7 linked regions of the Homo sapiens genome follow. The protein of the gene in region 5 purifies or fractionates together with the protein of the main gene of each other region. This does not show direct contact. Each region holds a gene or a part of one and is shown on either strand. Other genes may lie near its edges.

The links.
Region 1: the proteins of DHRS9 (region 5) and GALNT11 purify together in Homo sapiens (affinity purification with mass spectrometry; 3 studies listed by BioGRID and IntAct, with this or other methods). This does not show direct contact.
Region 2: the proteins of DHRS9 (region 5) and CHIC2 purify together in Homo sapiens (affinity purification with mass spectrometry; 3 studies listed by BioGRID and IntAct, with this or other methods). This does not show direct contact.
Region 3: the proteins of DHRS9 (region 5) and SLC60A2 purify together in Homo sapiens (affinity purification with mass spectrometry; 3 studies listed by BioGRID and IntAct, with this or other methods). This does not show direct contact.
Region 4: the proteins of DHRS9 (region 5) and SLC16A10 purify together in Homo sapiens (affinity purification with mass spectrometry; 2 studies listed by BioGRID and IntAct, with this or other methods). This does not show direct contact.
Region 6: the proteins of DHRS9 (region 5) and EMB purify together in Homo sapiens (affinity purification with mass spectrometry; 3 studies listed by BioGRID and IntAct, with this or other methods). This does not show direct contact.
Region 7: the proteins of DHRS9 (region 5) and TULP3 purify together in Homo sapiens (co-immunoprecipitation; one study listed by IntAct). This does not show direct contact.

Annotation. Positions count from the first base shown.
Region 1 is NC_000007.14:152,119,267-152,123,528, reverse strand, and holds the end of GALNT11 (polypeptide N-acetylgalactosaminyltransferase 11), read right to left. Parts: intron 2,699-4,262; coding exon 2,561-2,698; exon of another isoform or gene 2,514-2,560; intron 2,012-2,513; coding exon of another isoform or gene 1,984-2,011; coding exon 1,852-1,983; coding exon of another isoform or gene 1,703-1,851; 3' UTR 1,189-1,702; downstream 1-1,188. UniProt on the Homo sapiens protein: Polypeptide N-acetylgalactosaminyltransferase that catalyzes the initiation of protein O-linked glycosylation and is involved in left/right asymmetry by mediating O-glycosylation of NOTCH1.
Region 2 is NC_000004.12:54,015,719-54,020,313, forward strand, and holds part of CHIC2 (cysteine-rich hydrophobic domain-containing protein 2), read right to left. Parts: intron 1-4,595.
Region 3 is NC_000006.12:111,261,569-111,266,163, forward strand, and holds part of SLC60A2 (sodium-dependent glucose transporter 1), read left to right. Parts: intron 1-688; coding exon 689-857; intron 858-2,261; coding exon 2,262-2,378; intron 2,379-4,307; coding exon 4,308-4,595. UniProt on the Homo sapiens protein: May function as a sodium-dependent glucose transporter. Potential channels for urea in the inner medulla of kidney.
Region 4 is NC_000006.12:111,173,995-111,178,589, forward strand, and holds part of SLC16A10 (monocarboxylate transporter 10), read left to right. Parts: intron 1-3,217; coding exon 3,218-3,671; intron 3,672-4,407; coding exon of another isoform or gene 4,408-4,443; exon of another isoform or gene 4,444-4,595. UniProt on the Homo sapiens protein: Sodium- and proton-independent thyroid hormones and aromatic acids transporter.
Region 5 is NC_000002.12:169,092,957-169,097,156, reverse strand, and holds the end of DHRS9 (dehydrogenase/reductase SDR family member 9), read right to left. Parts: intron 1,614-4,200; coding exon 1,390-1,613; 3' UTR 990-1,389; downstream 1-989. UniProt on the Homo sapiens protein: 3-alpha-hydroxysteroid dehydrogenase that converts 3-alpha-tetrahydroprogesterone (allopregnanolone) to dihydroxyprogesterone and 3-alpha-androstanediol to dihydroxyprogesterone. Also plays a role in the biosynthesis of retinoic acid from retinaldehyde.
Region 6 is NC_000005.10:50,399,775-50,404,369, forward strand, and holds part of EMB (embigin precursor), read right to left. Parts: intron 3,681-4,595; coding exon 3,404-3,680; intron 2,546-3,403; coding exon 2,512-2,545; intron 140-2,511; coding exon 85-139; intron 1-84. UniProt on the Homo sapiens protein: Plays a role in the outgrowth of motoneurons and in the formation of neuromuscular junctions.
Region 7 is NC_000012.12:2,914,421-2,919,015, reverse strand, and holds part of TULP3 (tubby-related protein 3), read right to left. Parts: intron 1-4,595. UniProt on the Homo sapiens protein: Negative regulator of the Shh signaling transduction pathway: recruited to primary cilia via association with the IFT complex A (IFT-A) and is required for recruitment of G protein-coupled receptor GPR161 to cilia, a promoter of PKA-dependent basal repression machinery in Shh signaling.

The sequences.
Region 1 (4,262 bases), on a different chromosome or scaffold from region 5:
GAGACTTGTATCCTTTTCTAATATAGGTGCTTAATGCTATAAAACTTCCAAGTACTGCTTCAGCTGCATGCCACACACTGTTGTATTTTCATTTTTGGTCAGTTCAAAATAGCCTTTTGATTTTTTTCTCTGACCCATAAGGTATTGGGAAGTGTGCTAGTTTTTTATAATATTTGGAGATTTTTCCAAGTGTCTGTTATTGATTTCTATTCTACTTTGCATGACTTGAATTTCTATACGTATATCACACCTTGCTCAATATCCCAGAATATGGTCTATCTTGGTAAATGTTCCAAGTATTGTGTTGCTGGGTAGTGTCAATTAGGCCAAGATGGTTGTTTTTCTGTCTACTTGTTCTATCAATTATTGAGAGGTGTGTTGAAATCTCTTACTACAATTGTGGATGCGTGTACTTCTTGCAATTTTAACAGAACTTTGGGATTATTTCTTCTTGATAAGTTGAACCTTTTATTCATGAAATGACCCTCTATATCATCTGTAGTAATATTCTCTGTGCTGAAATCTACTTTGTCTATCTATTCAGATGTCTTTCATATATCTATCTTCCCATCCTTCTAATTTTAATGTATTCATAAAGTGAGTTTCTTACAGGCAGCATATAGTTGGATCTTGCATTTTTATCTAATCTGCCTTTTAACTGTGGCATTTACATTCATTACACTTAATGTGATTATTGACACTGTTGGATTTCAATCTGCCATCTTGCTGCTCTTGTTTTCCATATGTACCATCCTGGCCTTTGAAGTCAAATGACAGATAAAATATTTAGGATGTGGCAAACTGTTTTGTGGTTCAGATAAAATATCTGAGTGCATCCCCTGCAATATGAGACCATCTCTCCTCTTAAGATGTGGTTTGGGAGGAAACTTCACTTTATATTTCAGAATTTTTAGTATATGCAGGTGATTCCCAAATGTATTCTCTAATTGAGCTACGTCTTCCAAGAGTCTGACCTCTATATCCAACTGCCGGTTGAGCAGCTCTCCCTGGGTGCTGCACAGGCAACTTTGATGTCCAGTATCTAAGGTCACACAGCTCAAGCTAAGAAACTGGGACGCGTCTTGAGAGGCAGAGGACTCTACCGAGCCTACTGGGTCATCACCTGAATCCAAGAGCATGCAACACACCTCAGACCAGAGGCCCCAATACAAGACAAAATATCCTAAATAATCAAAAGGATTCTTTATTATGTAGATTGTATCATAATTCATCAAAATAATTTTATAATTAACTGCCATACTGTCTTATAAATGATGCCTTCTGAAGTTAAACATAATATAGATTCAGTTTTTTAAAATGATCTACTTACAACATACTAAACAAATAATAGAAGTTTTTTTTTTTTTTAAAGCACTATCTCCTATGAAGTCTAAGAAAGGAAATCATGACAAGTTCCTGATCAGATAAAAACCACTGCATCATTAAAGGGGATTAAAAAGAGGCATAAATAAATCTGAATAGAAATATCCATTTTCCTGGGTTTTATCCTTCTGTACAAGCCCAATTCTAGAGTTAAAATGATACTGTGGTTTGCCTCTATAAGCAAGAAATTCCTTAACAGCAGCTCAAACATCACCTTAATGTCCAGGTGAAACATACTCACTTCTTCACCCGTGGACACTCACTTCTTCACCCGTGGACACTCAGAGCTCCCGTCTCTGTCAGACACGTGTCACCTCTGCTAACACACCCAGGCATCTCCGGGAGGACAGGGAACTGTCATCTTCTCCAAGATGGTTCTGCTCCACCCAACCCAGGCTTTCCTAAAGCCCCAAACTCCACACCGGAGGCAACGCCTGATGAAGCAACGTTCCCACCACAGCATCCACCTTAACCTTCCAAATGCCACTGCTGTGAAGAGGAGCCATCGCAGATCGCCATGGCGACAGAGCCCTTCTGACCCAGGGGATCCACTGCTCTCAGGCACTGTCCAACCGACACCTGGTATAGCCGATTGTTTTTCTGAAAAAAAGGTAGCAACAAAAAAATACTGCCAATTACTGGCAAAACATGGAAATCCAGAGGAGAGATGGAGCACTTAAGAATTCAGATTAAGGGATACAATAGTCCCCTCTTAGCCAAAGGTTAGTTTTCTGCTGTTTGTTATCTGCAGCACAATACAATAAGATATTTTCTGACCGCAATCACAATTTGTATTATAGTATACTGATTTGTTTTTATAGAGAAAACAAACAGGCTGTTGGGCTACGGCGATCCGCCCACCTCCGCCTTCTCAGTGCTGGGATTACAGGCGGGAGCCACTGCGCAACCACAGTATGCTGTTCTAACTGTTCCGTTTCATTTCAGTTATTGTTGTGAACCTCTTACTGTGCCTAATTGATAAATTTATCACAGGTGTATCTCTAGAAAGAAATACAGTATATACAGGGTTTGTACTACCTGTGGTTTCTGGGGGGACCACTGTACTGCAGACTGAGAAGACCACCCCCAAGGTAGAAAATGAGTTCATCTGCCACACTCCCTCACTCAACCTTGTGGGCCTCTGCGCATTCTCCCAACATCACCGAGCACTCCTCACCCCAAAGGTCCACTGCTGGGATCCTCCTGACCCGTGGCATTTCATGAGCCGTGGCGGGTCTGATGAGCGAGTCTCTGACATATCTAGACAAAGGAGACTATTTAAAACCAATTCATGCTCTTCATTATAGATCCAGATCTAGAGAAGAAAAATAAAATAAAATTTAGATAACGAATTTTAAGACTGAACAACACTTTGCATATTCTTCCACATATTGATTCTGTAAGGTCTCAAAGCAGAAACAGACCAATGCACTAGACTTACAGGGAAGCAGATTTCAACTTGGTTCATTCCACTTCAGATAGCTAAGGCAGGAGAAAGTGAGGTGCTATTCTGGGAAGAAACCTAAGCAGTGGCTGAATTTTGTTCATTGAATTTGACTGAATTAACTCTTTTCCAATTTTAGGGTTTAACAATTACATAACTCTCTTAATTCCTGGACTGTGTAGGTGACAGAGGAGCCCGACAGCCTCTGGCTGACCCTCTGGAGACAGAAGGGCACACGGCTGCCATTTTCGTCGATGCCTCATCGGGGCAGTCAGGAAGTGCACAGGCTGAATCACAGATTATCTTCAGGAACACAACTGGGTGACATGGCAAGTGCAGTGAACAACTCACTCTCCAACATGCGCCATCACTATGCTCAAAAGGAACCTATTCTCTTCTGTTCTATTTACTCATTGCTTCAACTCATAGAACCCAAATGGATGTGTGCAGTGTTCACTAATATGAAGACCCTGAATCAGAGTCATAGGGAGCTGTGAGAGAATTTTCTGCAACACTGTTATTGTCTCATAGCCTGTGTCCAATAAGGGAGCTACTGGCCACATGCAGCTATTGTACACTTGAAATGTGACTAGTGGCTACAGAATTAGCACAACTATGCATATAAGCATAACTAAGCAATAAGCATAACTAAGTTAGCCTTAGAATAGGATAACTCCATCACCCCAACTTATATTTTCTGGAACAAATTTCAGCTCTCATCTCACTGTGACCTACACCACTGAAACTGCGTCACCGCGATTTTAATACTTCCACAACACTGCCACCTCTTCTACCCAGAAGATGCACAGAAATCCCTTCTTTTTTTTGAGACAGAGTCTTACTCTGTCACTAGGCTGGAGTGCAGTGGTACAATCTTTGCTTACTGCAACCTCAGCCTCCCAGGTTGAACCAATTCCCCTGCCTCAGCCTCCTGAGTAGCTGGGATTACAGGCACGCACCACCACACCCAGCTAATTTTTTTTGTATTTTTAGTAGAGATGGGGTTTCATCATGTTGGTCAGGCTGGTCTTGAACTCCTGACCTTGTGATCCGCCCACCTCATCCTCCCAAAGTGCTGGGATTACAGGCATGAGCCTCTGCACTGGGCCCCAGAAATCCCTTTTAAACTACATTTTCAACACACGTATCACCTGAGACAGTGGGCGTGACCTCTTCTGGTGGAGCGCTGGATGACATCTCACAGCACACATCACAGCACACATTATTTACCCAAAAGCCCAAGTGGCTTTTTTTTTCCTTTCTGAGTGACACCAACCCACCACTAAAATAGAAATGAGACACTACAATTTATGAGATTAGACTGCTGTTCCATTATGCTATTTTATCAGACATAAACGAGTTTGAAATTACCGTTCTAAACTGAAGTTATTTGCTGATTTTTAGGCCCGTTTTAATATTATTTAGGAGACATACA
Region 2 (4,595 bases), on a different chromosome or scaffold from region 5:
AAAAAGCACTGAATGTCTCGTCAATGACTTTGTGAAGAAAAAAGAACAAGGAGCAGACATAAAAATTCCAATAGTTGTTTAAGCATTAAAGTTCATTTGCATCACAGCGAACCTGAAAAGGGCTGACCTCTCAAACCGCCTCTCAGGTCTATGAAGTTGTAGCCTTGACAAGCTCACATTGACAGAGCTCATTGACTCTGAAAGGCTACTCTATCAATGGTGAAAAATGGCAATAGGTTCTACTCTGAGCAGGCATCTGCCTGCCCACCCGCTGCTAAACCAATGGCAAAACCGATTCAAAACCTGAATCTACCTTGTAATCTTTCTTTCTAGGGCCTTTTAATAATAGATTAAGATTACTATACAATTTGAGGTTTTACTTTTACTGATGATTTTGGGGGTGGGTGGATGATGAAAGAACTAGAGCAGAACAAGTTTTCCAAGCCCACTGTTTTATATTAATGTATAAAATAGTACCCAAAAGCTTAATACTACATTCTGCAAATACTTATTACTTAAAGAAAAAAATGTAGTTACCACCATCATTTCATCAGAAGTTTAAACCCATGCTATAATAAGAATAGATCTCATTATGATATATAGACACATACATACACACAATTTTAAAACTTAAAAATATTTACTTTAACTTAAATCAACTACTAGTATTTGAATAAAAGATAATTACAAAGTATAAATCTTGAATTCCAAAATATTTAAGTAGGAATTCTGAATTTCTTCTCTGTTTATAATTAGGAGTTTAATGATAGGGCTTGGTATAATAATTGTATCTTACAATATTTAAGAATTATAAAACAAACAAGCCCTGATATGCCACATTCTGAATAAGCATATAAATATAAAATATTTCTACACACTTCACAGTCTGAAGTAAAAGCTGTGAATTAGCACCATCTAATTTTGCTATAAGACTTCTTTCCTGCTTGACAGGTGAAAAAAAAAGCACTTGCACGTGCAGCTTAATTAATCATTGCACTTGACATCTCAATGATTTACAGTGAGGAGCAGGTGAGAACATACAAAACCAGAAAGGAACCCTTGATTTGAGTGGAACATTTCTAGCACACTAAGGTGACAAGTATATAGATTCTAGCAGTCATTTAAAAAAAAAAGGAAAGAAACTGTGCCACAAATTATTTGTTAGTAACAACAAAAGCTCAAATTAAATAGAAAAAAAAAAGGTTGAGCTACTGAGAATGTTTAATACTATGCAATTATTGTTAGTTAAGAAAATCAAAATATATTTTCAAGATTAAATACAATACCAATTTGGCAGATACTAAAAAAAATGACACTTCAGCATTTATAAAAGCTACTTAAAAGCTTTTAAAAGAAAGCACTTTATAATTGTAGTCATCTAGATAAAAGTTAAAGAGTTTATGTCCACAAGGCTGTCAGGTAGCTATTTCTAATGAAATGTAAGATTCAACAGTGTCGAACTCTACACTTGCTAACTGTGGACAAGCAAATCTAATCATATAACAACCTGTCCTTGGTTTTTAAATGTTTATTTCAACTCCAAATTCAAAACAAGCTGAAGCAAATTAACATGCATCAGAAAAAAATATGTATGGGATCTGTCAACATGAAACAAAGTACCAAAAAACACCATCTTTCAGTATTCCAGGCCAGTTTCTAAAAAAATAAGTCATCTTTAATTTTCTTTAAGAGAATTTAGTGCTTGTGAAAAGCACCAGATTGATAGTCATGGGAACTAAAAATCTATTTAGCTGAAAGAACAGGGGAAGGGGCAGTGCAGGCTTTAGTGTAAGCTTCCCTACAGTGGGCCTTAATCCTTTTCACTGCTCACACCCTGGGGGTGAGGGGACAGGTTAGCGGTTCTTTACCAATGTAATTCTCCGTCTTTCTGCAAAAGATGATCAACAAGAAATGTAATTTTATCAAGTATTCTTATCTTTAATTAAAAGGACCAAGACCACCAACTCACAATATGCAGGAAAAACAACTTTTTTGTGTGAATGGCGTCATGTTACTAACCTGGTCTGGAAGTAGACAGCTCCAAGCATCTGGATCCCACCCATCTCCCTCAGCTCACTTTAAATAACCCTTTTTCTTTAAAAAAACAAAAACAAAAACAAAAACAAAACACACATTTCTTCATTTCCACACCTTAGTGGTTATATTTTTCTCATTGGTGAACTAGTTTTAATACAGCCATTCAGCTTTGTGAAAGTAAAAATTAACAGGAGATTTAAAAAATATCATTTCAATTACTGAATAGGTATTAAACAGACTTAAGTTGAGCAACAAGTAGTAGTAACATAAGAATAGAAATTTTGGCTTCTATTTATATTGCCTTTGGTCCCTTTTAGATTTTTGGTAGAATTGTGAAAATAGGAAAAACATGAAAACGGAAAGAGAACTAAAAGGGCCTCAGTAATTCATAAAATGGCTAATATGGTAATGATTAATCAGCAATATTAGATAAGACATACCCAAATAAGACATACCTTCCAAAGAAGCATCTAAAGTAAGCTTATAACAGCAAAGCACACATACACCTAGACAAACTCAATTACTGCAATAGAAAACTAAGATTTCCTGAAAATTCAAATTTGAATTATTATGTATTTTTGTAATTTTTCCTAAATACTGTAACTTTCTTAGGAATAAATTATTAATATTATTCCCTATAAACAAATTAAATGCCATTAGATATAAATTAGTCTTCCAGGACAGCAAAGAGCCATTTAGAAAATCTTTAAGGTATTAATCTCCTACTTTGCCACCACTGGTTACTTAAGAGTTTCCTAATTCCCAATGACTCATTTAATCACAATCAATTGTTTGAAAACATGGTTTTACAAAGAAGTGGTTTTCTAGACATTACTAATAAAACCAATGGAAATCTCATAAATTTTAGAGTATTGAGAGCTAAAGAAAAAAAATGTTAAGTGTAGAAACTGTAACAAAGTTTATCTTAATATTTCCCAATAAAATAGTATTATCAGTCTTTAGAACAAAAATATGCTATGATATGCTAATAAAATGTACAGAATACTCACTAATAACTATTTATAAAAGTTCACCTATTTAAACCTATAATTAAAATGTATTTGAATTGGATTTATTCATACCATCACAAAATGGGAAAGCAAAATTTCAAATGTTCAATTCCCTACTTAAATTTTAAACTCTTAAATCTATAATGCATTAATTAACCTTTAACTAAAATGTTTTGAATATATTCATAATCTTGTTTTTAACTTATATTTTTCAAATAAGAATGCTATTCATCTTTAGACATCTGTGTAAATTGAATTTGTTAAGTAAAACAATGTCTTTAGCTGTAAGTTATTAGGGAGAAACCATATATAATTTAAAATGAATTATTTTAACATAAGAGAACTTAAGAGGAAATTATATTATTCACTTCTGCTCATTCTGGATTAATATGAAATTTTATATTCCAGTGATGTGCAGAAAATTAAATAATTATATCACAGTATTATGCTACGTGAAAAGCCTAGATTCACCAAAAAACAAAAAAAAACTAGAATATGATTTCTCAAAAGGATTTTTAAACAAATTCCTTTCCTGTACATTAAAGCACCTTTTAAAATTTTAATATGAACATTAACTTTTAAATAATCTAGATATATTAAAACACCCACTGAAGTATCATGTGCTATTTGTTAAAAGTAATATTTTTAGATAGAAATACGCTAAAAAAAATTGCTAAAATTTTGTGAATCAAAAATATCCTCTAGTACTGAGCAGTGTCTTAATAGGTGCTAATCTTAAACAGAATTTCATCAAGTTTACGATCTAGGCTAGTGAGAGAATATTAACTTGTTTAGGTTATACTGGTTATGAATTATGAAAGATAGGGATTCTCTCTCTGCAGAAAAAAAGAAACATGTACACAAACATGCACAATTTAAAGGGGGTTATCTACTAACTCTGAGTACCATTTCAGAAAATACTAACATTTTAAAAAACTAAAATTAAGTTTTGAGGTCCCCATCTGACCCATCTTCTGCCTGACCTATTTCCACTAAGCAATCATCCCACTCGGTCTCAAAGGGTTCTTTTGGTTTCAATAATCTAGTCAAATAAAAATGCGCTTGGGTTGGGGCAGGGTGCAGGAAGGGTCTCCTTGAATTTGGGCAGCAAATATGTCACTATTATTGTTAAAAAAAAATTATCCAAAAAATTAAGAGATAAAAATTAATAAATATAGTTTCAACTGACCACAGAATATTAGAAAAACTGTTCATAAGACAAAGGAATTTCACTATGCAAATAAAATAAAAAGTACGGCTATCAGGAATTTTTAAAAATATATGTAATTACAAAAGAAAGAATCAGTGCTTACTGTCAGGCCTCTGAGCCCAAGCTAAGCCATCATATCCCCTGTGACCTGCACGTATACATCCAGATGGCCTGAAGCAACTGAAGATCCACAAAAGAAGTGAAAATAACCTTAACTGATGATACTCCACCACTGTGATTTGTTTCTGCCCCACCTTAACTGATCAACGTGCTTTGTAATCGCCCCCACCCTTAAGAAGGTTCTTTGTATTTCTCCCCACCCTTGAGAATGTACTTTG
Region 3 (4,595 bases), on a different chromosome or scaffold from region 5:
CAACCACACCTGACTTAATTTAATTAATTAATTTATTCTTTCTGAGACAGAGTCTCGCTCTGTCGCCCAGGCTGGAGTGCAATGGTGCAGTCTCGGCTCACTGCAACCTCCGCATCCCGTGTTCAAGCGATTCTCCTGCCTCAGCCTCCCGAGTAGCTGGGACTACAGGCGCCCACCACCATGCCCAGCTAATTTTTGTATTTTTAGTAGAGATGGGGTTTCACTGTGTTGGCCACGCTGGTCTCAAACTCCTGACCTCGTGATCCGCCTGCTTCGGCCTCCCAAAGTGCTGAGATTACAGGCGTGAGCTACTGTGCCCGGCCAATTTAAATTTTTAATACCCAAATTCTTATTTGTGCATGTAATATATTTCAAAATGTACGAAACCATTTCAAAAATAGTTTTAATATTACATTTTATTAATACAGAATAGTCTTTTAAAGGTATTGTTCAGAAAGGAAACAGGATTGCAACAAAAAAATAATTTTTTAAAAACTGAGAGGTGTCAAAACAAAAAAAAAATAAGAGTTTTAGTCAAAACTAAAAAAACAGTAGTCTAATTCCCTACATTACATTGTAAATCCCAGACCCTCCGCCCCCCTTTTTTTTTATAGTGGAAGAAACTACCACATAGTTAGACATTATTTTAATGATTATAAGTAAAAACTTTTGTCTTTTTAAATTTTAGGGATTGAGTGTTGCTATAGTGGGACCCACGTTTCAAGATTTGGCAACAAACGTGAACCGAAATATCAGTAGTCTGTCTTTCATTTTTGTGGGTCGTGCCTTGGGATATTTGAGTGGCTCTGTGATTGGTGGATTTCTTGTCGATGTCATGAATTATTTTTTACTTTTGGGTAAGTAAATGCTAATTTTAGCTTCTTTATGACTGTCAAGTGAATTTACAAGTTGTCTTTGAAAATATGAAAATACTAGCATGCAGAATGGTTGGCCACTGAAATGGGTAGTGTTTAGGTGTCCTCAATGGCAGTTGAGTTTCCCTGGTACCTGCTTTCATCTTGACAGTTAGAGGGTATCTGTGCTGGGTCCCTCTGGAAATTTAGATTAGCTCTAGAGTGTCTTAGCAATCCTTAGCCTTTCCAACCACTATAATTTAGCTACCACTCCTGGATCACACACTGGTTGTCCAAAAAACTCTGCTTAGAGGGTTTAGGGCAGATTTCCTGGGGTCACCACAGATCAGAATGAGCTCTTTGAACCTGCCCAGGCTACACCCTGGATTGGGAATGAAGAGGGGAAGCGAGGTTGGGTGGACTGATGTAGGCTATGTTTTTGTTCCTGCTGCCCCATGTTGTCGTTGGACAACCCCAGAGTGCTCTGTCTCACCCTGGAAATAGATGGCAAAGCTGCTTTTTTTTTTTGAGACAGGGTCTCCTCTCCCTCTATTGCCCAGGCTGGAGTGCAGTGATGCGATCTCTGCTCACTGCAACCTCCCCCTCCTGGGCTCAAGCGATCCTCCCATCTCAGCCTTCCAATTAACTGGGACCACAGGTGTGAGCCACCATGCCTGATTAATTTTTGTGTTTTTAGTAGAGCCGGGGTTTCACCATGTTGCCCAGGTTGGTCTGGAACTCCTGAGCTCAAAGGATCAGCCTCCCAGAGTATTGGGATTACAGGTGTGAGCCACCACGCCTGGGCTGGCAAAGCTTTTAGCATATACTTTTTTTGAATAAATTGAAATATTTAGAGAAAATTTAGATTAATATGATAAAATTGTTTTGGAAGCAAGAATAATTTGTTATTGTTAAGGAATTAATAAATAATCCCTCTTATTTCCAAAGTGGGTTGAAATAACATATTTCTTGTATTTTCCTCCCTATTTCCCAAACTAATTTATTTAGTAAATTTTATTACAAACTACTCTAGTAATTGCATTTTATTTTTGTCTATTTAATTTTTTGCCTCATGTCTAAAAATTCCTGTTAGGTTCTTAAATGTGAATCATTTAAATTAGTTTTGGCTTGTCTCTTTTGGTATAAAACTTTGCCTTATGGTATAATTTACAGTTTGATTACTAGCAGTGCTTTAAATGTATTTGTGTTATAATTATTTATATTTCATAATCCATAAAGATTATAAAAGATTCAAATGAAATAATCACTTTTAGAAGCAAAAACTCTCATCTACTCATTATCTAATTTAAATTTGACCTGATTTTGCATGTTTGGACATTTATGATATTGACTTGATCCATGACTGCATGGATATTATTTTTTATAGCTGAGTTTCTACCTTCCCAGGAATCTCAATGTCGGCTACCACCGTTGGTCTTTATCTTGTTCCTTTTTGCAAGACAGCAATATTACTCACTGTCATGATGTCTATCTTCGGTGTTTCAATTGGCATTCTGGATACAGGTTAGTGAGCTCTTCAACGTCATCTCTGGGAGTAGGGACTTGCTAGAAGAAGTACAGCAGATGATACTAAACTGTCACTTGCAATGCCCCCTAAAATGACACAGACCTACTGAGTTGGTTGTGAGTCACTCAGAATGAATCACCCTTCTAGCAGCTATTCTTGCCAATTAGGGGGCCTGTTTCTGAGCAGCCAACTCTGAAATGAACTTAAAGAATTTTGTTCTATGAGAGATAATTGATTTACATTGTCCAAACAGGGAAGGGCCCCTGTGTGGGTAATTACAGTGCAGGTGAATAGGCCTTCATCTTGGGGTAGAACTTTATTGCTCTAGTATGGGAGGAATTGGTGGTTTAATAGGTTAAACCAAGTTTGGAACTGTTATTTGGCTGAGAAAGCATAGAAGCAGCAATCCAACTTGACATTTACCCTGACTTCCAAGCCAAGAGAGATCCATAGTGTGGACTAGGCTCTTTCTTTTTCTTTCTGTCCTCAAAGTTCCTGGCCTCCTGCAGTAGATTCTTTCCCGTATCATCATCATGTCTTTTAAAACTTACTAAATAGGCCGGGTGCGGTGGCTCACACCTGTAATCCAGCACTTTGGGAGGCCGAGATGGGTGGATCACGAGGTCAGGAGATCGAGACCATCCTGGCTAACACAATGAAACCTCATCTCTACTAAAAATACAAAAAATTAGCCGGGTGTGGTGGTGGGCGCCTGTAGTCCCAATTACTCGGGAGGCTGAGGCAGGAGAATGGCATGAACCCAGGAGGCGGAGCTTGCAGTGAGCAGAGATCACACCACTGCACTTCAGCCTGGGTGACAGAGTGAGACTCCATCTCAAAAAAAAAAAAAAAACCTACTAAATAACGGCGGGGTGGCTTACGCCTATAATCCTAGCACTTTGGGAGGCTGTGTCGGGCAGATCACCTGAGGTCAGGAGTTCAAGACCAGCCTGACCAATATGGAGAAACCGCGTCTCTACTAAAAATATAAAATGAGCCAGGCATGGTGGCGCGTGCCTGTAATCCCAGCTACTCAGGAGGCTGAGGCTGGAGAATTGCTTGAACCCAGGAGGTGGAGGTTGCAGAGAGCCACGATTGTGCCATTGCACTCCAGCCAGGGTCTCAAAAACAAACAAACAGAAAACCTACTAAATAACATAGATGACATCTGTTTACTCCTAAAACCAGCTTTCTACCCCTCCCTTCCCTGCTTTGCTGTTACGTGATCTGTTGAGGAAATATTTTATTTTACTTTAGGGTTAATTTTGTTATGAAATTATAGGGTAGAATTATATATTTATCTGAAAATATCTGTTGAAAAAAAAGAAGATAGCTCAAGATGTGCTGCTTCTTGCCTTTCTCCTCCTAGACGTTTAGACAGTATAAATTCAGATGCTAAACGGTGTCCTTGTTTCCTCTAATGGGCATACCAGAATCCTGGCTATTCAGGTTCCTGGACGTGTGTTTTGCATCTGTTACATACATAAGTAAGTAATTTTCCTCAAGTGGCTACCAACAGCAAGTACAGAAAGCTTTGGTAATTTGGCTACTATCTGATGATAAAATTTTGCCTTTTAAATATATATTTAAAATATTAATATATAAATATTTCTTCTGCAGTCTGATGTTAGAACTGTATTATAAAAAGCGTCTTGCTAATGTGCTTGGTTCTAGGAGGTAGTAGTCTACTAGACTGTAGAATTCGATTTGTGAGTATGTGATGTTATAATGCTTAGAGTTGTCTGGTGGTAGTGGGTTAGAATTCCTTTCTCAGAATTGATTTAGTTGCAATGTTTGATAATTAGAATATTATAATGCTTGTGCTATGTAAAATAGACTCACCCCCTTTCTGATAAGTGAACTTTTTTTTTTAATAAGTAAGTAACTGTTTAACTTAAATAATTTTTCCCATCTTTCATCGACAGGTGGTAACGTCCTTATCTTGGCTATTTGGGGGGACAAAGGAGCCCCACATATGCAGGCCTTACACTTCTCTTTTGCCTTGGGTGCCTTTTTGGCTCCACTGCTAGCTAAACTGGCTTTGGGTCCGACAGCGTCTGCTGAAAACCACACAGAGTCTGACTTCCATCCTGCACTCAACCAATCATCTGATGCTGACTCAGAAGCTCTGTTTGGAGTACCTAATGATAAGAATTTACTGTGGGCTTATGCTGTTATCGGTACTTACATGTTCTTAGTTTCTGTCATTTTTT
Region 4 (4,595 bases), on a different chromosome or scaffold from region 5:
GAGGGACTCACTGTAAGGAACGGATGGGCACATAACTGCATGGAACATCTCTCCCTGCAGCTCTAGTTCTCCTTGTAAGTCCCTTGCGTTGGTAGAATAATCCTCAGTTAGACAAACACTGATTTAATATGTAGCTCTGGCTAACAGGAGGTGATTAAGAAGAAAACCTCTTAAGATGATTTCCATCCTTTGTCTCTACTTTAGTGGTTTATCTTCATTTCCTGCCTCTTTCCTGTCCCTAGCTGTCTTTATGCTGCTTTAGTTGAAAAGCGTTAATGTGGTCATTAAGGAAAAATAAGTCAAATTTACATTTGACTTTTTATTTTTAAATATTTAATCAACAGAATCCTTGGTTTTACTCATTGCCGCCCCCCACCCCCCAACACACATCCCTTCCTCAACTCTAAAGTGAGCCTCATTCTTTCATATTTTCTTCCATCTAATTTAGAAATTCTATTTGGATTTTTAAAAATTATATTTATTTCTTTGTAGAAAATAGATATTTTCATCTTTAAAGTACCTTTATGGGTTTTTTCTTCTAAAATTGTTTTTTAAAGAAAAAAGTTTTATTTGGAATAAGATTCTTGTAGGTAATTCCATGAGATGATTTATTTTAGCAGCAACATAATATTTACATTATTATTAATGTAATTAATGTTATTAATACCTCATCAGATAGCTTCTTTGATCTGGAAGCTTCCAGGTACCTATTGTCAGTACTTGTGGCTCTACCACTTGCCGAATGTATTACAACTCTAGTTGTGGTAGAGAGGGGACTGAGAGGTAGACAACTTATGTAATCTACTACCTAGTTTGTTAACAAAACACACATACAAAGCAATGTTTTTCAAATTTTTCTGACCACTGAGCAATAAAAATTATGACATATATTTTGATGTGACCCAGTTCTGTCTCTCTTTCTCTACCCTCTAAGTGAAACAAAATTTATTGAAACCAAAATTCCCTTACTACATGTAATATTCTCATATATTCTATTAAATTTCGTTATTTAGCTTGCTGATCAAAGGCTACTGAAACTTGAGAGCAAGATACAGGAGCAAGGGGAAATGTGGTATAGATTCTGAGTGTCAAGTGGCAGGTCCATTTTTTCCTCTAGCTCCAGTTCTGCCTTCTGAGGAAAACCTTCTCCAACAACTTAGGTCAATCACACCCATGTCCCTTCTCTGAATCCTTTTTGCACATATGATTGGTATCCGACAGCCTTACTCATTTACATTGCACTTATTTGGCTGCCAAACGTCACAAACTGGAACCATGTGTTACTGAAGGGAAAACCTGGAAGTGAAAAGGGTTCAGCAGTAGTGCAAATACCATCATAAAGCTCATATACTTCACTCTGCAGGAGGGAGAAGCTCTGTGGTTTTCCAACTGAGAGCATTACAGTACAGTGATACCACTGTACAGGAACTGATGTTCCTGATGATTCTGCTGTGAACAGTATTTTTAATATACACTTTGAAGAAGGCAGAGAGAAATGTATAATAGACTTAAATTTTTTTCTTTAAAATTGTTAAATAAAAACAAATAAGCACTTTAAGTAAGTTACAATTATCTGGAAAACTACTTAGGTGGAAAAACTGATACAGAATGAATGAAGTATTAATTTCTGTTTTGTTCTGTGTTATTATTATTTGGGATAGATGTCTTGTTTCTTTAAGCAGACTATGAATATCTTGAAGGCAGAACCACATTTTTTTTTTTTTTGAGACAGGGTCTCACTATTACTCAGGCCAGAATGCAGTGGTGTTATCATAGCTGACTGCAGCCTGGATTCCTGGGTTCAAGCCGTCCTCCTGCCCCAGCTTCCTGAGTAGCTAGGACTACAGGCATGTGCCATCACACCCAGCTAATTTCAGCTATTTTTTTTTTTTTTAAATAGAGATGGGGTTTTGCTATGTTGCCAGACTGGTCTCAAGCCATCCTCCTGCCTTGGCCACCCAAAGTGTTGGGATTACAGGTGTGAGCCACCACGTCTGGCCAAGGACCAGATTTTTAATATTCTTTTCCACAATGTATCTGGTACACAGTAGTTGCTTAATATGTTGGCTAAACAAAGAGTGGAGATTCAGTAAAGGGTGATCAGAGTGAGGTGAGATTAATTTGGGAAAGCCTAGAAGTGATTCTTGAGCCTGATTTGAAGGTGGTGCTAGCTGTGGATTAGTAGAGGGAGAAGGGCATCTCAGAGAGAGGATTGCCAACATGCCTTAATTTTATCAGATTCTAGAGTTCCTTATGATTACCTCAGCATGTTGCTAGACTAGCATTATTATCCAAAATTTTAATTATTAACCAACTTTAATCTTACTTTCTAACAAATTGTTTGCTTTTACTACTGATAGCCTTTTCAAAAAACTTTAACTAGTTTTATTCCTTACCATAATTGTTTCAAAGAACATAATGATATGATCCTTTATCTTCCTAAGAAATGTGCAATTATTTGGTTAAACTGTAAGATTATTTAATCCATTATTCTTTTGACACATGCATGGCCTTACAGCTTACAAACTGGGATCACTAAAGGAATACACTTAATTTAAGTCTTTCTGTAGTCAGAATATGATTTCTTGTTGTCTTGCACAATACTGAGAACAGTGCAGTACAGGGCGAAGGTTGGTCTACAGCCCTTAGGCCAGCAAAAACAGGCACAACTGCACCTCTGTGCAAATGTTCCTGACATAACCTTGGGGAAAAAATATAAAATGCGGCCTTTTCTTTTACTACCTTGTTTGGTAAGTACCTGGAAAAACTCCATGAAATAATTAGATTTCATAGTTAATTCTAACTTTTTTAAAAAATGTTTCATTGAGACTAGGTTTTTGGTTTGTTAATTGAATCACTGTTGATTTTACCCTTCCTGGCACCAACCTTTATTTCTGAGCTGTGGAGAGCACAGTTCTCACTCAGTGCTGTGTGCGTCACCTGAAATCCACAGAAAGAGGTGGCTGAACAAAATCACTGATGACCTTAATGGTTATTTTTCACATATTCAGATTAAATTAAAATACGTTTAGTGCTACATGCTTGACTTACTGAGTTTTTCCCTCTATTTTGGTTAATTTTTTTTTTTTTTGGTTAACTTTTACTTGTAGAAAATATGTTGATGAACAAAAACCCACTTATACTATAAGATTTTATTCTACCAAGCACACAGTAACAATATTGAAAGCTGCTTTCCATCTTTTTCATCTTTATACAGTTCCATCGAGCCTCTGTACCTTACCTATGGAATCATATTTGCCTGCGGCTGCTCCTTTGCATACCAGCCTTCATTGGTCATTTTGGGACACTATTTCAAGAAGCGCCTTGGACTGGTGAATGGCATTGTCACTGCTGGCAGCAGTGTCTTCACAATCCTGCTGCCTTTGCTCTTAAGGGTTCTGATTGACAGCGTGGGCCTCTTTTACACATTGAGGGTGCTCTGCATCTTCATGTTTGTTCTCTTTCTGGCTGGCTTTACTTACCGACCTCTTGCTACCAGTACCAAAGATAAAGAGAGTGGAGGTAGCGGATCCTCCCTCTTTTCCAGGAAAAAGTTCAGTCCTCCAAAAAAAATTTTCAATTTTGCCATCTTCAAGGTGACAGCTTATGCAGTGTGGGCAGTTGGAATACCACTTGCACTTTTTGGATACTTTGTGCCTTATGTTCACTTGGTGAGTATGCTCCTTCACTGATCATGAATATTACTATTTAATAAAGAAAAACTTCTTTGAAGAGAAAGTTAGGTCGAGTTAAAGTTGGCCTCAAACATTATCCTGGTTGTAATTTTGGTATTCTTGAAATGAAAGGTCTCTCAAGACAATGTCAGCACATCCATTAGACCACTAAACAGAGAGAGTATGTTTCATAGTGTGCTTTGGTATTTTAAAAACCCTGCAAACCCAGCCAGACACCATGGTGCCTGTCTATGGTCCCAGCTACTAAGCTGAGGCAGGAGGATCACTTGAGCCCAGGAGTTCGAATCCAGCCTAGACAACATAGAGAGACTCTACCTCTAAAAATAAAATAAATGTCCCCAAACAAACACAATGTTTTTTAACAGGAAGGCTAAAATAGTGGAACAAATTACAATCAGTATAAAACATTTGATAGGTCTCTTTTTCTTCATATGGCTTTTATCAGGGACAAAGCTAGCGCTATGATTTTGCTACCATAAGTAAATTGTTTTTCAACCGAAGGGTGTAGGTAATTAGCAAAAAAGCCATGATGTTGATACAAAGAAACATTACATCTACTTGTGGTACACTTCTGGGAAAATGGGAATTCTATTCAGAGGAATATCTGAGAAAAGTTACTCAAGATCTAAATGAGGAAAGAGAACTATGGTTTTATAGGAAATTAGGATTTCAAGTGCTCAAGAAGTTTATATTGTTTATTTCTATTTCAAAGGCAAAATTCAGCTTTGTTATACTGAAATACGAATAATTAATGTCTAGACTGGGGTTGGTGCCTCACGCCTGTAATCCCACCACTTTGGGGGGCTGATGCAGGAGTTCAAGACCAGCGTGGGCAACATAAGGAGACTTCATCCCTACCTGGGGAAGGAAAAAAAAAAAAGAAGGAAGAAGCAGTGTCTA
Region 5 (4,200 bases):
ACACTACCATGCCAAGCTAACTCTTTAGTTTTTGTAGAGACAAGATTTCACTATATTGCCCAAGCTGGTTTTGAACTCCTGGGCTCAAGCGATCCTTCTGCCTTGACCTGCTGGGATTACAGGCAGACTTTCTTTGCAATATGTTAAGCATGTGTGTATATGCCTCTGTGTGTGTGTGCACGTGCACACTTGCACATGTGCATTAGCTAATCTCTCTGGCTGTTTACACCATATTATTAAGCAAAACATGTTGCATTCTGCCACTGCAGGCTTCTTCTTGTAAATAGTCTACAAACCTTTGCGAGCAGTATTGGCTATTGGAATCGGGAAACGTCTGTTTAGGGAACTCTTTCTTTTGGATGGGGTGTGGGCCCAGGGTCTATTCAATTTAGAAACATGAATATAAGCAAGATGCAGATCTAATCCCACTGTAACTGTAGACTAAAGAGAGCCTTTTTATTTAGCTCTATATCTTCATGGGGCTTCAAAGACCCTTCAAATGCAAGATTTCCAGCCATCTCAGGTGTAAGTTGTGCCACATGGTCTGGGTCTTGTTACTTTTACAATCATCAGAATAAACCAACCAAATGTAACATTATTCTTCTTTTGGAATGATTAGTTACTATGTCATTACATCTTTCCACCAGAAAACTGTGTGCATCAATGTTCTTAGGGGCTTGAATAGGATGTTCACCTCCATAGCTCCCTCTAGGAAGGCTTGTCTGAGTGTTGGGGAGTCTCTCTTCATATATATATATTTAGGTATATATTCTTTTGTTGCAGTCCTCTTATTCCTTTTCCTATCTTTTTCTTTCCTTCTGTTTGCAGTTCTATCTAGTGTTTTACTGCTGCCTTTAGCTTATACCCGTGTCACACAATGCTTGATCACCCTCCCTTTTCCTGTCCTTTTCAAAGCTTATCAGAACTGAGCTTTGGTCCTTCAGAGTCATCCTCAGCAAGGTAACAGAACATGTCTATCCACTCATGAAAATGTTTGACTTATCTTTTAATATTTAGATAAGAGATGATACTTAACATTCACAAGTTACTGTAAATGCTGGGGACCATAAGCATGGGGCAGGCCACGGTAAAGATCATTTTGAATGGGCAAGTCTTTCAATTTCCCTTACATCACACCAAGCAGGCAAAGCCTAAATACAGGGCAGGACTTGCCTATGTGATGTACCATTCCAGCCCTCCTTTTCAAAGAAAACTTGAGCAGGGACCCTGGGATACCACCAGCGATGGTGGGACTCCCTTTTGCAATCCAAATAAGCACGATCTAAATGAGTCCAGGTTGGAGCAGATAAGGAATGGGGTTGAAAAGGAGATGTGTTCTTGAAATCGGCCAATTTCATAGCCTGGAGGAGACATTTGTGGTTAGCTGAGTCACACTGCCTTGGGATTAGCCAGCTCTGCTTTCTGTTTCAACAATAAAAAGTCTTGCAAAGCTGCTGGCATGTGAGACAGAGGTATCCAGAAAATTTTGGCATCTTTTCCAGCGGCATAATGAGTCTTAGGGAAGAGACTTGTTAGAGCGTGGTCCATGCACTCTACCACCGGAGAGAGGTCCATGTTCACATAGGATTTATTGCCTTTCAGTTTGTCTAGACCTAAAAAGAGACAAAAGTACATTTACTCTTTGGTAGAAGGGGAAAGCAGAGTGGAAGTCTAGGGTGCAAAGGGGAGGATGGATACAAGGGGATTTATTCTGAATTGTCCATTATAATTGAGGCTCATTTTGAGGATTTACTATCTATTCCTCAGAAAATGATATTGCAATGCTTTCTTTAGACCAGCAGCTCTCAAGATTGGGTTGGCAGCAGATTCTTCTAGAGAGCTCATTAAAACCCAGGTTTCTCGGTTCCACCTCCAGAGTTTCTGACTGAGGTATGAGGTGGGGCCCAAGAATGAGCATTTCTAACAAATTTCCAGATGATGCTGATGCTGCTGGTCCAGGGATCAAACTTTGATCCCTCAGTGCTTTAGAGCAATGAGGAAACGATACTTCATAAAGCCCATGAGGCCCCTAAGCCTAGAAAGTTGTATGTTTGATTTCTAATTTGTTTTAGGGGATTATGTGTCTAGAGAAAATGTGGGTTGCACATGTGCTTGTGCATGTATGTGCATGCATGTGTGGATGTAATTGTGCACTTGTATACTTGTATAGGCTTCTATAATCTGTAAATAAAGAGAGAATCATCCCCAAATGTACTGACTCAGGAAGCTAAAAGGATCCCAGTTCTCATGCAAATGAGATGTTTGAATAATGAGCGAAGATACCTTTAGAGAGGCAGGGATTTTACAAGGGATTAGTGGTGGATTACAACCCCAGTCTTTTCAATACATGGTATTGGGAAAACAGTATATCCACATGAAGAAGAATGAAACTGAATCTTACACCATATAAAAAAATCAACTTAAAATGGATTGAAGACTTAAACATAGACCTGAAATTATAAAACTGCCAAAAGAGGCCTGGCATGGTGGCTCACACCTGTAATTACAGCACTTTGGGAGGCTGAGGTGGGAAGATCACTTGATCCCAGGGAGTTCAAGACCATCCTGGGCACCATAGTGTGACCTCATCTCTATTAAAAAAAAAAAAAAACTACTAGAAGAAAACATAAAGGAAATACTTCTTGACATTGGTCTGGGCAATGATTTCTTTGGATATGACCCCAAAAACACAAAGCTAAACAACAGCAAAACTAGATAAGTGGGACTGTATCCAACTAAAAAGCTTCTGCACAGCAAAGGAAACAGTTGAAAGAGTGAAGAGAAAACATACAGAATGGGAAAAAATATTTGCAAACTTTATATCTTAGGCACAGTTAATATCCAAAATGTATAAGAAACTCAACAGCAAGAAAAGAAATAACCTGATTAAAAATGGGAAGAGAATCTGAACAGACTTTTCTCAAAAGAAGATACAAATGGCCAACAGGTATATGAAAAAAATGTTTGTCACCACTAATCATCAGGGAAATGCAAATTAAAACCAAAATGAGATATCACCTCACATTTGTTAGAATGGCTACTATCAAAAGACAAAAGATAACAAGTATTGACAAGGGCATGGAGAAAACCTCTTGTATACTGTTTGTGAGAATGTAAATTAGTACAGTCATTATGGAAAATGGCATAGAGATTTCCCCCCCAAATTCAAAGTAGAGCTATCATATGATTCTCACATACTTTTAAACCATACCTGAGCTGTGTCTTCTCAAGGGAAAGTCTATGATGTTAGATCTTTCTTTCAACTTCAAGTCCCACTGGCCACAAGTTGTTCAAAGAACCTAATAAGTCTTAGTGGCTATTTTAAACTCCTACTATCCCAGCTTGGGAAATTAAGAAAAGATGACCTTCAATTTGTGGTCTACTTTGGGACCGTGACTTTGGCTGATCTCCAAGTCCTGACTTGAAAACTCTAGTGAGAACAACCAGTGTAAAACTGAGCTCAATGCCTTTTGGTATTTCTGAGACAGAACACATGAACCAGGAACCAAGCCAAAAATAATTGGAGATGGAAGTCAGTGATATATTCAAAGGCATTTAAAAAGTATCGGTATCAATATCAAACAGAGAAAGCTCTTTTAAATGAGGGGTTTTGTTTCTGAAGTATTAAGTTCCATCTTAGATGGAACCTACATAGAACCTTCAGAGTCAGGAACTGAAAAGTAGAGTATTTGATGGCAGTGGCTCTAAACCTATAGTGGCATGTCAGCACTAAGATGTTTGTAAGACCAGACATTTCAGTTGATATATAGATAATGTGTGTACCTCTGTGTGTGTGCATGTGTGTGTGTGTGCGTGTGTGTGTGTTTAGGGTAATGGTGGTTGGAGGAGTCAGTCATTTTAAAAACCTCTCCAGGTGGGTCTGACTTGGCTTTCAGCTCTGCCTTGAAAACTCCTGACCATGAACCTTGCCACAGTTGACAGTCTTACCAAGTCCACTGATTAAGAGGCCTGAGCACAGTTTGGAGGGAAAGAACTACCCATAGTTAGGTGGAACCCTGCTCAACTCAAAGCAGGAGGTCAGTGAGTACTTGAGGAATATCAAGTAAACTTTAACCGACCCAAGAAGTTTGTGGCGGAGGGGAAAGCCTGATAACAGGAGTGTAACCAAAGTCCTTAATGCCTTGTTCACATTATAGTGCCATGGCCAAGCATAAATGGCACGGTCAGGCTGCCTGGGTC
Region 6 (4,595 bases), on a different chromosome or scaffold from region 5:
CTAAAAAAAAGTAACTGATTGATAGATAGCCTATGTATATTGAATTTGACCTTTTATTTGGAATATCATTCAGAAGTAACTTACATTTTTTCTATGCCTGGGGACATTATTTTCTATACCATTGCTATCATCTGATTTCCTGCACAGAAAACAAAAAAGAAAATTACTAAATGCTTATATTATATAAAATTAAGTCAGTACATCACTGATATGGCTATCAGGTTAAAATGTAAAATGTCAATACGGACAGAATTCTTTCTTCCTAAAAATGTTTTACTTACAATGTTGAATTTATTTTATGGCATTGCTTGAAGAGGAGCTGTTACCACAAATGATAGTGACAAAGGCTTGTTGATTTTATGCACAGGGAGAATTGCTTCTCCCCAAGCATGAGTGAGGACTTGGGCGTAAAGACCATAACTTATGTGTGGTTTTGGAAACATGCAAGGTAATAGCCAATTAGGAGGTCAGCCAACATGTGTGATATTGGTGCTATACATTTGTATGCTTATTACACTGAAATAGAGGTTAAAAATGGTTCTTTTTCCACCCAAAGTTTATCAGAGCAGGACTACAAATGTGGGCCTCAGATTCTAAAGATTGACGGAAACTAAATAACCAGTATGCATAATGAATACCTTGCCCTTCAAGGTCTTGGGGGCAGGCGTCAATTATCAAATCATAATGCATATTATAAGACAGTGTTACTTACAATTAACTGATAATTAATATTTTCTAAAAAAAAAGAAATCCCACGAGTGCTTGTTTTTCTTTTGTGTGTACTCTTCAAAAGCAGAATAATGGCCACTAAGAAAACACCTCAGCAACTATTGCAAGAAATGGTTTGAGGGACATCAAGAAGCTCATTGTTCTGAATGATTTCAAGTGCCCTTGATATTTGTATACAATCTAAAGATAGTGAAATAACCTGAAGAAAAACTAAACACCTTCAGTGATCCTTATGGTGCTATACAAGATGAGCAAAATGATGTACATTGATCCAATTTTCAGAAAAATAATTCATCTTTTACACTATATATTGAATCCATTTTACATTGTTCAGAAGTGATGGTCCATTCCACACTGTTCTGGTACCATCCTTTCAGAGTGTGTTTTAAATCAGAATGCAACTTCCAAATGTGAGCTCAGAAGAATGGTTAGAGACAGTGGGAGGCAGAGCTCGGAGAATAGAGGAATCCGAGCAAGGTTCTGTTTTCAAATATGTCAATGACTGTCACGTTTGTTATATGATGCTAAGAACAAGAAAAACGCCAATACGTGGAAATAGGAAAGATTAAAAGTTCAAATCAACATAAATAAGATATCTATGTTCTCCAGAAAGAGAAGGGATTCTCTTGGGAGAGATACAATTCCCTTCCAACTATGGGAGTCTATGATTCTAAGACAACATTGCTTTTCTCTATCTGGTGTTATAGGATTTCTGATGTAGTTATTTTGTGCCCTTAACTTGGAAGCTCATATCATATTGGTTTATTTTAGCAGCCTATGTGAATGGAGTCAACATGATTATCTGAATAATGTCTACAAACATCTAAATGACAACTGTCTGCTCCACTCCTGCTATCCATGCCTGTAACACTCACTCCATAGAGCTCCTGTTGGCTGATAAACTCTAAGTGCCATTTTGTGTTAGTTATAGTTGCTCAGGCCTTCCACTTCTCAGGTTTCTTGCAGCAACTTTAATCTAGCCTCGTTTTCCTGGACTCCAGCCCTTGGCTCTATTGTTCAGGCTTTAATCCCAGTCTTGGACACCTCTGTCACTGGCCTCCATACTCAGTTCTCTGGCTTCGAGGAATTCGGAACTCCCATCTTTGCCAAACTAAATTACATCCCTGGTGATTTTATTTCCAGACCTCCTCATGCTTAACTCTAAACAAAGGCTGTGTAAGAGAACCTGTGGCACAATTTGTGTTCTCTGAATAATAATAACTAATAGAATTCTAGGCCAGTGATTTTCAACAGACAGAGGATCAAAACCATTTGTAGATGTTTTCAAGAAATAACAGATGCCATAGCCCCAACCCAAGAGGTTCTGATCCAGGAGATTCAGCAAGGTCTGAGCAACTGTATTTTTTTAAAGAGGCTCTTAAGTGATCAAAAATTGCCAGGCTTGAGAACTATTGCTTTAAAAATAATAATATTAAATACTTCCTGATGGTTACTGCACACCTTCTGTGCACCATAACCTATGCTATGCATTTACACATATATAATATTCATTCCATCCAACAACCTCATATGGTGAGTACTATTATTAAATCCATTTTGTAGAGAAGAAAGCTGAAGTACAGAGAAGTGCAGGTAGTAAGTGATGAAGAAGAATTCTCACGCAGGTAGGCAGACTTGGAAAGCCACTTTCCACCACCACGTGGACATATACAGAAAATACTCCTCTGCCTTTTCTCCCCCTAACTGCAAACATTTCATTCAATTTTATGTTTCCCTGTATTTTACCCAAGTGAAAATTAATCTGTAAAAAATAATACTTACAGCTGTTCAATCTGCTCAAATTCTTTCCCCTCATCTGTGTAACAAAAGAAGAATTTGACTGTGAAGTTGGTTTGTCACTTTTATGGAACATATATGCTCAATTAAACCTCCTTCCTAAGTAAGTAAGTACTATGCTGTTTCTCCTGTTTGGAATGAAGGAGAGACATGCTACCTTAAACACCTACACCTCCTTTATCTGCACTACAGACCTTATCTGCATTTCTGATCAAACATAGTTTAGTGGCCTGGTATTTTCAAAAACATGACTGCTTAGTTTGTCATTATTTAAATCATTAAAAATTTAGTATAAAATCAGGAAAGAATACAGGACGTAAGGTCAATTTTCTAGAGGATTACTGCTTTATCAACCTGTAACCCATCAGGCACAGGCCGCAAAAATAGGACATGACAGGATGGTCTCTCTTTAATGAGAACTCTGGAATGGTTAATAAAATATTTTTTTAAATGATAATCTAAGTGAAAGAAAAATTGTTTCTTTTAGACTTTTTATATTAAGCTATCATAGATTTTTCTAATATTCCAGTGCCAGAATACATATCACCTAATTGGTACTTAGGTACCAGTAGCACCAAAAAAAAAAAAAAAAAAAAAAAGAGGGGGGTGGTGGGGGAAGAGAAAGAAAAAAGGCATTTTTAATACTAAGTTTTTTCAGGAATTGAAACAGGAAGACCATGGGTATATGTTTCCAGCTCACTGTCACCATTGTTGTAAACCTAAATACTGCTCCAAATAAGAAAATGAAGATTTTCCCCAAAAATCCTAAAGTCATTGCAATGTATCAAATCATAATCCATATCATAAGTAAATGATACTTATAATTAACTGATAATACTTTCTAAAAAAAACAAAAAACAAAAAAAAGAAATCCCACCTGAGTGCTTCTTTTTCTTTTGTGTGTACTTTTCACAAAGCAGAATGGTGGCCACTAAAAGAATCACCTCAGCCACTATTACAAGAAATGGTTTGAGGGGCACCAAATAGCTCAGCACCACAAGCTCAATGTGTTCTTCACTCTCGCCTAATTGGAATAGTGCACGGCACCAGTAAGATTCCCCATCTTCCTCCAAAAGTTGTGTTATCTTCAGCTTTGTTTCGTTAGCATATGTTCCATTGATCACATATTTATTCATTTGAACACCAACAGGAACCTAATATGAGGAGACATTAAAATCCATTCCTATCATAGCACATAAAAGATACATGACATAGTTTTTCAGTGAAAGCTATAAGATAATGCCAACAATATTGCTTACTAGAGAAAGGCATATTAAAGTTTGTGAGAGGTTATCTATAACAGACTTAAGTCTTATCAGAGTTTGATCTCCCAGGGAGCAAACAAAGAAAAAATATATACATTGCTATAAGGATTTAGCAGTGAATGTTTAAAACTACAAAGAAGCAAATAGGTCATCATGAATAAATATTATAGAAGAATTAAAAACAGAAAAATCCCAATCATCTGAGTCTCACATTCCTATCCTTGCCTAGTGCTTTAAAGTACTTTTTCCTTCACAAGCACAGGCACATATTCAAACAACTACCACCCCGGAAGCTACTATTTCTGATCATTTCTATAAAGGAAAATCGCTCACTCAGACAATGTGATTTCCCCAGGCTAGAAATGAAGATGAAACTCTCAGGCTTTTGGAGCTGATGTAGATAGAATGGAGGGGACCCTCTGTGAGCCTGGGATCCGAAGTGAACTGCACACCTTCTGTCTTTTCATATCTGAATTTCTTTCTCACTCAGATAAGCTGGCTTCTAAGATTTGCTGGGTTTTCCACAGCCTCACAAGGTGCCATATTAAGCTATTTGGGGCTGTTTTATTTAATCTATTTAAATTAAATTTTATTCCCAAGCCATTTGATGCTTTTCCTGCTCCATCACTCAACCGTGCTATTCAATAAATGCTAATCTGCATACAAATATTCTCAGAGCTTATCCAAGGAATAATTATCTGTGAGTATATTATTCGTGCAAAAAAAATTACAGCAACCTGGCACCATGTGCACAACACTGCCTGGAATGTTTGGTACAGATTGGTCAGAGCTAATCAATCAAAG
Region 7 (4,595 bases), on a different chromosome or scaffold from region 5:
GAGGCTGAGGCAGGAGAATCACTTGAACCCAGGAGGTAGAGGTTGTGGTGAGCTGAGATCATGCCACTACACTCCAGCCTGGGTGACAGAGCAAGACTCGAGACTCTGTCTCAAAAAAAAAAAAAATTCTTCTAGCAACCAAGAGGTCTTGTATAATGGATAAAAAGTAACTTGCTGGCCGGGCACAGTGGCTCATGCCTGTAATCCCAGCACTTTGGGAGGCTGAGGCGGACGGATCACCTGAGGTCGGGAGTTCAAAGCCAGCCTGACCAACATGGAGAAACCCCGTCTCTACTAAAAACACAAAAATTAGCCGGATGTGGCGGCGCATGCCTGTAATCCCAGCTACTCGGAGGCTGAGGCGGGAGAATCGCTTGAGCCTGGGAGGCGGAGGTTGCGGCGAGCTGAGATTATGCCCCTGCACTCCAGCCTGTGCAACAACAGCAAAACTCCATTTCAAAAAAAAAAGTAACTTGCCTGAAAAGGTGGTAAATATGAAGTACTGAAATCATAAGAAACTGCCATATCTTATCTATGTGGCCACAGCTATTTCATCTCATACATAGTCTGTGAAATGATCGATGAAACAAAATCACATACTGTAGGCTGGGCGCGGTGGCTCACGCCTGTAATCCCAGCAGTTTGGGAGGTCGAGGTGGGCGGATTACCTGAGGTCAGGAGTTTGAGACCAGCCGGGCCAACATGGTGAAACCCCGTCTCTATTAAAAAATAAAATTAGCCAGGCGTGGTGGCAAGCGCCTGTAATCCCGGCTACTTGGGAGGCTGAGGCAGGAGAATCACTTGAACCTGGGAGGCAGAGGTTGCCGTGAGCCGAGATTGGACCACTACACTCCAGCCTGGGCGACAGAGCGAGACTGTCTCAAAACAAAAACAAAAACAAAAATGAATGCTGTAGCTATTTTTTGAGACGGAGTTTCACTCTTGCTGCCCAGGCTGGAGTGCAATGGTGCAACCTCAACTCACTTGCAATCTCTGCCTCCTGGGTTCAAGCAATTCTCCTGACTCAGCCTCCGGAGTAGCTAGGATAACAGGCACCTGCCACCACACCCAGCTAATTTTTTTTGTATTTTTAGTAGAGATGGGGTTCACATGCAAGGAAAATATTTTCTTTTTTTTTTGAGACAGAGTCTTGCACTGTCACACAGGCTGGAGTGCAGTGGCGCGATCTCGGCTCACTGCAAGCTCCGCCTCCCGGGTTCACGCCATTCTCCTGCCTCAGCCTCCCGAGGAGCTGGGACTACAGGCGTCCGGCACCGCGCCCGGCTAATTTTTTGTATTTTTAGTAAAGATGAGGTTTCACCGTGTTGGCCAGGATGGTCTCGATCTCCTGACCTCATGATCCGCCCGCCTTGGCCTCCTAAAGTGCTGGGATTACAGGCATGAGCCACCGTACCTGGCCAAGGAAAATATTTTCTATAGAAAAGGAGTTTTCTGCTGTGGTCTAGAAAAGGGAGGCCAAAGAGCTAGAATTTGATAGGGTTATCAGGTTTGTCCAAGAAAGAGAAGTATCTTTTTTTTTTTTTGAGACAGAGTCTCGCTGTGTTGCCCAGGCTGGAGTGCAGTGGTGCGATCTCGGCTCACTGCAACCTCTGCCTCACGGGTTCATGCAATTTTCCTGCCTCAGCCTCCCGAGTAGCGGGGATTACAGGTGCACCCCACCATGCCCAGCTGATTTTTAAACTTTTAGTAGAGATGGAGTTTCACCATGTTGACCAGGCTGGTCTCAAACTCCTGACCTCATTCCCTCTGATTCCTTGCTCACCAATAAGCCTTCTAATTTGAAGTTTAACTTCTTAGGTATCGTATTCCCAGGAAAAGAGTATTATGAACAGTAGACATGAATACACACTGAAAGAGTAGAGCTCCCTTTATAAATTAATAACTTGGGGTTCTGGTTTTAAAACTTACTGGTGTGGGTTTAACTAGCGTGAATTTGTGCCAAAGGACCTGGTTATATCCAGTTCACTGACAAACTAAGCTCTCACTTGTTAAGGGGAGACTAGACCCCTGACCACAGTGTTCCTGCCAAGGTATCTGGGGAAGCCTCTCTCTATCTACTTACAGACAAATCAAACTCATTTAGACCAATGACTTAAGAAAAAAACAACTGTAGACTCAAACTGTAATCAGGGCCACAGCTACTATACCTCAGTATTGAATGATCTTACTACTGTCCAAGTTTACAAATAAGAAAAATACCATTAAACATATATGTGCAAGCTGCCATCTTGGTGAAAACCGTCATGCAGTTTGGATGGGGGAGGAGAGAAGTGCTACTTGTGTTTGAATGTAACAATGTCAATTCCTATTCCATCTATATTTTACTTCCCTGAAAACCTAAAAGTGCTTTAAACGAGGCTACATCAATGAAGGACTCATTACCAAGATAGAGTAAGTCAGGGAGCCAGGAAGAAAGCCAGAGCTGATGGTTAGATGCCCTAAATGCAATTAAAACACACTGCCTTCGTGATTTTAAGTGTCATATAAACTAAAACTTAATCACTTTTAAATTTCCTAATTATCTTGGGAATTGAACTGTAAAAGAATCTATCTTCCCAAGAATTTAGTGGTATGTCTTACTATCCTGCTAAAATATTGAATGGTGATGTCAAAATAAACAGTAAGAAATTAAAGGAGATCAGATAGGTGGAAATTTCCATGAAATAACTTTATCCAATAAAATAATAAAGCTCTGACCGGCGCAGTGGCTCATGCCTGTAATCCCAGCACTTTGGGAGGCTGAGGTGGGCCGATCTCTTGAGGTCAGGAATTCGAGGCCAACATGCCGGAAACCCCATCTCTACTAAAAATGCAAAAATTAGCTGGATGTGGTGGCACAAGCCTGTAAATCCAGCTACTTGGGAGGCTGAGGCAGGAGAATTGCTTGAACCCGGGAGGCAAAGGTTGCAGTGAGCCAAGATCGCGCCATTGCACTCCAGCCTGGGCAACAGAGCAACCATCTCAAAATAAATAAAACTTCATTTAAATTAATGATAGTTTAACTAATTCTCAATTTTCCTAGACAAGGAGTCACCCTAGAGGTGATGGGCTAAGGTTACACTATGACAGTTTTCCAACAGACTGACCAACCACAGAGTACAACCAGCATCAGGCTAGTTGTCTGCAGTCTATCAGTTTGTTTAAAAATCTCGGCCGGGCACGGTGGCTCACGCCTGTAATCGCAGCACTTTGGGAGGCTGAGGCGGGCAGATCACGAGGTCAAAGGATTGAAACCATCCTGGCCAACATGGTGAAATCCCATCTCTACTAAAAATTAAAAAAATTAGCTGGGCGTGGAGGCATGCGCCTGTAGTCCCAGCTACTCAGAAGGCTGAGGGAGGAGAATCGCTTGAACCTGGGAGGTGGAGGTTGCAGTGAGCCTGAGCTGAGATTGCACCACTGCACTCCAGCCTGGCGACAGAACGAGACTCTGTTTCAAAAAAAAAAAACAAAATAAAAAAACTAACTTAATCTCCCCGCCCACAAAGCAAGATCATAGGAAGGTAAGACTAAAATTTTTAAACTAGACTTCTTAAAATATCATTCAGTGCAGTGATGACCTCTCATCATACAAATAGATGAGCAACTTGGCTCAAAGGAACTATGTTGTACTTTAATCCATTTTCATCAGACGAAATAAATGTACTCTACCTAATATGCATCCATGTCAGAAATATCACAGCAAGAATCAGAAAATCCATTCTGGGCTGGGCGCAGTGGCTCACGCCTGTAATCCCAGCATTTTGGGAGGCCGAGATGGGTGGATCACTTGAGGCCAGGAGTTTGAAACCAGCCTGACAAACATGGCAAAACCCTGTCTCTACTAAAAATACAAAAAATTAGCCAGGCATGGTGGCGTCTGCCTGTAGTCCTAGCTACTCGAGAGGCTGAGGCATAAGAATCGCTTGAACCCGAGAGGCAGAGGTTGCAGTGAGCCAAGATCATGCCACTACACTCCAGCCTGGGCAACAGGGCTACACTCTTGTCTCAAAAAAAAGAAAAGAAAAGAAAATCCATTCTGCAGCTTGCTAAGGTGCCCACATACCCTGAAAACGAGTATCTTGCCAGGTATGGTGGCTCACACCTGTAATCCCAGCACTTTGGGAGACCAAGGTGGCTGGATCACTTGAGGCCAGGAGTTCAAGACCAGCCTAGCCAACATGGTGAAACTCCATCTCTACGAAAAATACAAAAATTAGCCAGGCGTGGTGGTGCACTCCTCTAATCCCAGCTACTCTGGAGGCTGAGGCACAAAAATCACGTGAATCTGGGAGGCAGAGGTTGCAGTGAGCCAAGATTGCGCCACTACACTCCAACCTGGGCAACAGAGAAAGACTTCTCCTCAAAAACAAGAAAGAGTATCCTAGTGAAACTGGTAAAAATAAAAGCAAGATATACTCAACAGGAAAGTATTTCGATAAATGGTGTTGGGAAAGCTGAATATCTGAATGAAGCTGAATCTCTGTTTCACGCTATACACAGCAATTAATTCAAACATACAGTTAGACAGAAGAAATATGTTCTAGTGTTCAATAGCACAAGAGGGTGACTATAGTTAAGAATAATTTATTGGC